2 linked regions of the Homo sapiens genome follow. The protein of the gene in region 1 purifies or fractionates together with the protein of each later gene. This does not show direct contact. Each region holds a gene or a part of one and is shown in the gene's direction. Other genes may lie near its edges.

Region 1 (3,500 bases):
TAATTACAAAGCATGAAAAATGTTGAAAAACCCTAGATGCTTTAAAAAGAATGTAATAGAAAATTTTATGTAGATTGATGGCATTAAGGGATTCTTCTCCTCTGAAAAAGAAACACTTAAGCCAAGACTTCATTCATTCAACAGAACTATTCAAACTTGATATGGGAAAGTTGAAGTTTAGGGAGAGAGGTATCAAGAATTACTTCCAAATTTCTGGCATGAGCAACTGGGTGGATAAAGGAGCCATTTATTAAGATATGGAAAACTGAAGGAAAAAGGTTTCAGGAGGAAGGCTATACACAGAATTGAAGAATTCATGTTTGATCCTGTTAAGTTTGAGACATCCAGGGAGATGTCAAGCAGGTAGATGTGTATACAGATCTGCTGGAATGGACCTGCAAATTTGGGAGTTGTTGGCATGGAGAGAACTTGCAGCATGAGAAGAGAAGATGACTCAGAGTAGAGTCCAGAGGAACTCTAAAGTTGAGAGATCAGGTAAAAAAGGGACCTGCAAAGGAAGCAGATAAAGAAGGCCTGGAGAGGTGGGAGGAAAGCTAGGAAAATGAGGTGTTATGGAAACCAGGAGAAGAGTTAACAAGAATGAAGTGAGCAACTGGCAGAATCTAAGAGATGGAGTAAGATGAGATTAGCAAAGTGGCCAGTGGTGACCTTAACAAAAATAGTGGTCACTATGATCTGGGGGTGGAAGTTGGTTTAAAATGATTAAAGGTCGAATGGCAAGTGAGGAAGTGAACCCTGTGTCTCGTCAACTCTGTGGAGAAATTTGGCTCTAAGGGGTAATAGAATGCTAGACCTGGGTTTTGTTTTGCTTTTTTTTTTTTTTTTTTTTAGCACGGAAAGATTCTACAGCCTGTCTGAATGCTGATTGGAAAGATCCAACAGACAGAGGGGATGGCCAGAGGGGAAAATGAGAGCTCTCAGAAGGCTGGAAGGGATAGGCTTAGTCCACCTGTGGCTGGATTGACTTTTGGGAGAAAGTGGGCTATTTTTTGTTTCAGTAATAGAAAAGAAAGAGGAGATAGATATTGATGAAAATTGGTTTGTGTATTTAGCAGTTAAGAACTTTCTGCCTGGCAACATCTCTTCCTATTAAGTACTGGGCAAGTCCAGGTATTGGGAGTGGGAAGGAAGGGAGGAAACGGGGTACCTAGGAGACGTAGAAGGTATTTTGAAGTGGCTTCTGGCATGATAAGCCAGCGTGCTTGCTAGAGAGTGTAGTAGTCATAGTAATACTTAACACTGGAGTGCTTACATTATACTGCTGAGCACTTTATATGAACTAGCTCACCTTGCCCACCAAGGCTCTACTTTAACAGGCACTACAGTGATGAAGAGCATAGACTTTGGGGCCGGAGTGGCCAGAGTGCTGGTTAAATGCCCACTACCACTTACTAGGGTGTGAGCTTGGTCAAGTTACTTAACATTGCAGAGCCCGTTTTCCCATCTCTAAAATAGAAATAGTGGTGGCACCTGCCTCCTGGGGTTGTTGTGACTGGGTTAACATGTTTGTACAGTACTCAGAACAATGCATGGCACATAGTAAAAATTTTAAGTACTAATTTAAGAAGAGAAGAGAAAAACATTGTATAAGTAGATCTAAGGTGTTAGGAGATGTAGTTATGTTGGGGGAAAAAAATCTCTCTGGCTATAATGATTCTGTGGAGGATCCTTTCCAGTCCTTAAAGGTGGTTAAACAGTTGAACTCTAACCTCCTGAAGAGCCTAATTTTATTCTTTGGAACTATAGAAGATGTTTGGCAGATTTTTTGCTCAGTCGTTTTTATCATCAGAAAGGCTAAAAGTAGGGACAACTTATTTCCTTGGGCTAGGGATTGAAAAACTTAGATTTTGATCCCAGTCACTGGGTGAACCCACATGCTTATTTCAACCTCTGTGCTGTCTCTCCCTCCATAAAGTAATGGGAAGGAAGATGGCTTCAAGGAAAGAGCCAGGGTCTGAGAGCAGTGATTGGAAACCTGGAAGAAGCCATTCACACCCCATGTGCTCCATTCATTCATCTCTAAAATGCCTGTCAATCAAAGTCAGGCAAATTGTGAGAAAATGAAACTGTATGTAGAAGTACTTCGAAAATAAAAGTGTTTTATGTTCACAGCATTATTATTAGAAATAATCTTTGCTACCAGCTCATCATAAATGCTTGGCAGATTAATGAGGTGATTTGATAATTGTAATGTTTTGAGTTTCTTTGGAAGACGTGTGTAACACAAATGCCAGGTGTTTCTGTTATGGGAGAACTTGAATAAGTCACAGAGGATCTAACTACATGCTTAGTACATCATGCTGAGTATTATAGAAAAACAAAAGAACTTTAAAACAAGGTTCTTGGCTTCTAAGAATATAGTTTTCACAGGGTGATAAAATATACACCTAGTATTATTCAGTACGACATGTGATTGAGTGCTAGAATACGTGATGCAGACAGAAAGTACTAGAAGAAGTTGTGGAGGGGGACTATATAGGTGGTAACTGCTTTTCTTTTCCTGAGGTAAATGTTTTCTGATGGCTTTGTCCATGCAGGATTCATTTTCTACTTCTATTTTCCCAGTGATTTCTAATGTTCATTGAGAGGTTACAAAATGGTTTATGATTATATATGTCCAACTTGACAACCAGAATCCATTTCTTAGTCTAAACCAAAAAAAAAAAGCTGGAAGCTGATGGGGATAAAAATAGAACCTTAAATATGATCAAGACCAAAATGTTTTTTAACATGCTGTCTCCTGAGGTCAGCATAGAAACATTCATAATGTTTTTATTCTAGTTCTTTTTCCTGACTTTTTTATTTAAAAAGGAAAAAATTTAATTGAGTGTACTCAGAACTTCCATAAATTTCTTTCACTGTCCCAGGTAAAATAGCTGAGACTATTGCAGATTTCTAAATGAAGAAATAGACCTTTAACATGTGACAGTGATCATAGTGCTACAACCTAGGATATAATTGATCCTCCCAATTTTAGCCCAGTCTCCATTCTCTCAAAGTACATGTAAGCTGCAACACCTGAGCTGTTTCTAACTCCCTTTGGTTCTGTAGTCACTAGTCCTGCACCTAATATTCTCCTCCTTCATTCCTATACTTTGTCAGTAAGATACTAGAAGCTGGAAGGGGGTTGATAATGGGATAGTGGTTACAAGAAAACCATAATGGAATTACCCTGGGAGGGAGCAGAGACTTAAAGTATGTCTTGGTTTTACCTGAATTTGTCTAGGCTTCCCTGAATAAAGGACTTTCTCATTTGTTCTCTAGCTAGGTTTGGGAATATTTTCTTGACCTTTATGCTTCAAATTAGCCTTGCAAATTGGCTCAAAAAATATCTTAGCCTTCAAAGATGTTCTTTTACTTTCAGAATTATGGATCATTCCCATGCTTACCCATGCCTGCAGTCCCTGTCATTAAGCAGTGAGAACACTAGACACATACTTGGCATAATTTAATAGAAAGATCATGGAAATCAGGGGGCA
Region 2 (3,500 bases), about 33 Mb from region 1:
CTGAAGGGTGCGGGGAGTGGGCGGTAGAGAAGGGAGGCAGGCAGGGATCATAGCATGCCTGTACATGGATGGAAGGAGCCAGCAGAGGGGAAGCTAATGACAGCAGAGGCAAAGGGGATGGCTCACACCTGTAATTCCAGTGCTTTGGGGGCCAAGGTGGGAGGATCACTTGAGACCAGGAATTCAAGGCCAGCCTCGGCAACATAGTAGGACCCAATCACTACAAAACATGTCTTAAAAAATGAGCTGGGCATGGTGGCATGTGCCTGTGATCCTAGCTGCTCAGGAGGCCGAGGTGGGAAGACTGAGAGTTCGAGTGCAGTGAGCTATGATTGTGGCACTGCACTCCAGCCTGGGCAACCGAGTGAGATCCCCTCACCCCTAAAGAAAAGAGCTTAAAACTGCTTCTCTGCTCTGAGAAGCACAACTAACTGCCTTCACTGAAATATACCTCAGGCAGAGATTTGGGGTGAGATAGTAGGTCAGTTGATGTTCTGCAGGAAGGGGCAGCTTGTCCATATCAGCTCGCTCACGCCGCCAGTCCATTCTTAAGGAACTGCCAACCAGGACTGATGATGCATTTTAGCTTTGAGCTTTTGGGGGTTATCCTACCAACAAACAGTCCTTCGGGAAGAAAACAATCCCAGGAATTAACAGATCAGAATGTTCACACTGGTTAATCTTTTTCTAGCAATGAACATGAAGCTAGCAGAAGCTGGTGTGTTTCCAGATGGTTCCTCTAACCAAACTAATTTTTCACTGTTGACAAGTGAGGCAAGGGTTGCACTGGACCAAAGGCTGAGGCTTGGCCATCTAGCATTCCATGCAAAATGGTTTCCTATAAGCATTCCTTTTATTCTCTATTCTATCCTGGGTCTGCCTCAACCATGAGATAGGAGAGTCTCCGGTACTAGCTGCTGTAGCACTGCCCTTCATCCAGGACAGTTAAAGGAGTCTTGGACCTTTCTTTCTCTGGGATCGCTGCCCAGCACCTTCCTACAGAGATGACTTTGAAAGGAAAAAAAAAAAAAAAAAAAGGAAAAACAGCACACCATTCCAAGGAGCCTGGCATTCCTGAATCCTCCTTCCCTACAAGGTGCCTGTCACCTGTCTTTACTGCCTCCTTTTCCCTGTCATGCTCATCAGCTATGGCTTCTGTCCAAGTGCCTGAACAGAAGACTAGAACCTCCACTGCAGGCTGGTTTGAGGTCGTGATTTATGTCAGAATCTTGCACAGCACTGCTAATGTAAATTTCAGCTTTTTCCCTCTAGGATAAACACTTACCAAAGTATGCAACTTTTTTTGGTGGGAAGAGGGATTGTCCTGTGATTTCTACCCATTTTCTGAGGCCTGTGGAAATAAATCTTTAGGTACTTAAAGTTAGACCAAAAATAGAACAAAGTTAATACCAAACTTGAAAAAAAAAAAAAAAGAAAAGAAAAGAGCTGCCATTATGGAGAGCCAAGCCTCCCCTGACTACTCAGGCAAATGTTTTAAGAAGCAGTTCGTTCGTTCACTCATTCGTTTGCTCATTCGTTCATTCATTCATTCATTCATTGGGTCTTTGTGGCTTGCCTACTATGTGCTGGGCAGGGATAAGACAATTTCCAGTGGTGTTGGTTAGAGGATGAAAATAATATGAGCCATTAGCAAGTCTTCCTTGCATTTTCTCTGTGGTTTTGGATCAGCTCCAGCTGCTCTCCTGGGGGGACTGGTTGTCCCCAGAGGCCTGGCTAGCAGGACTGGGCAGCAGGCTTATCTTTCTGAAGGGTGAGGCCAGTGCCCTTGGTGCCCCTGCATGGGTGCCCGGTGATCGGTGTTAAGGGGTGCTGCTTGGAAAAGCCCTTGGGAGCCCTCTTCCTTGGCTGGAGTCCAGCCTTTCCCTCTTTACCCCAGCGTCCTTCATATTTGGTCCAGTTGGTTAGACTTCTGGTTCTCTGTGTAGCAGCCGGGTTCACAGTTTTACCTCGTGTGGGGCCAGGGAATTCTAGGCATGACCGTGTGTCTCATTATTGCCTGTCGCAGGGCAAGTCATGTGACCTGCCAGGCTTTGGCCTTCTCACCTGTGACTCTGGCTATTCTAAGATCTGGGAATGGGGACAGTGTCTCCATCACAGACACACCCCTGTAGGATGCCCTGTATTCTAGATACACTGGCTCTGACTGGAGATGGGGTGGAGGGTGATCTGCAGGGCTGGGCTGGGCCGGGGGAGCCTTGTGGGCCAAGGAGGTGCTGCATGCGGCTCCCTCGGCAAGGGTCCCGCTGGCTGTGCTCCAGGGGAAAAGGTAATGAGGAGCCACTTCCACTTCCCTTCAGTATAAATCCCACAATCAGGAAAATTGCTTCAATTGCTAAAAAACGCTGGTGGGGAAGTCCACTTATTTTTCATTTTTCTTGTGCACTTGCCACCCTCATGCATGAATCACTGTCGGTATGTAGATTAAATTTATACCCCCGTTATCTTTCATGTCTCTGGTGTGCTGGTGTCAGCTGGGCCTCCGGTGACTGAAAGCCCCCTGCCTGCTTTTTAGTGGGAGAGAGTGTGGCCCCTGTGGAGGAGGCTGCTGAAGGGTCTTCCCTCTGTTCCGGGGTCTCCTCTCAGCCCTCCTCTCCTTGGATCTCTGGTTAGGACACATTCTCCAGATTTGCGTGGTTTGTTGGGAGGGTTCGCAACAAGCATGATGAAAGCCTTGTTTCATTTTAATTAATTAATTTAGAGACAGGGTCTCGCTCTGTTGCCCAGGCTGGAGTGCAGTGGCGTGATCTTGGCTCACTGTAGCCTCAACCTCCCTGGGCTCAGGTGATCCTCCCATCTCAGCCTCCCAGGTAGCTGGGACTACAGGTGCACACCACTACACCCGGCTAATTTTTTGCATTTTTTGTAGAGGCAGGGATTCACCATATTGCCCAGGCTGGGCTCAAGTGATCCTCCTGCCTCAGCCTCCCAAAGTGCTGGGATTACAGGCGTGAGCCACCACACCTGGTGCCTTGTTTCATTTCAGTACCTGCTTTGCAAATTGGCTGGGATTGGATATTAAATATACAGGCCTTTTGAAAACACTCTCTAGTAACACATGTGTAGGCTTCCTTTCTCTGTTATACACACACACATAACACACACACACACACACACACACACACACACACAGTAGAGGTGGGTGCCTGCCAGCCTTCCTCTTTGATCCAGGTGATGTGGTTACACAGCAGTTGTGGAGGACCTGGTTCTCACCTGTGTTCTGGGAGGTCTAGAACCATCCAGAGCCGACTGTGTGCTTTGTTCTACATCCTCAGGTTCGGCCATCTCCGTGCACATCCTCTACAAGTATGGTGCTTTATCTGCTGATTTATTTATTCAACAAATATTAACTCTACTTTCCTGGGTCCTGAATCCCTTTAAGAATCTGATGAAAACCCAGGTCCCCTCCTGAGGCACAATTTTGAACAACTTAGCAGGTGGTTTACAGGCCTATGCTGACCCTCACGCAGAGAACTCCTGCT

What was found.
Region 2: the proteins of BCL9 (region 1) and LHX4 purify together in Homo sapiens (affinity purification with mass spectrometry, with the first as the bait; one large-scale study listed by BioGRID). This does not show direct contact.

The regions. Positions count from the first base shown.
Region 1 is NC_000001.11:147,607,501-147,611,000, forward strand, and holds part of BCL9 (B-cell CLL/lymphoma 9 protein), read left to right. Parts: intron 1-3,500. UniProt on the Homo sapiens protein: Involved in signal transduction through the Wnt pathway. Promotes beta-catenin's transcriptional activity.
Region 2 is NC_000001.11:180,261,264-180,264,763, forward strand, and holds part of LHX4 (LIM/homeobox protein Lhx4), read left to right. Parts: intron 1-3,500. UniProt on the Homo sapiens protein: May play a critical role in the development of respiratory control mechanisms and in the normal growth and maturation of the lung. Binds preferentially to methylated DNA.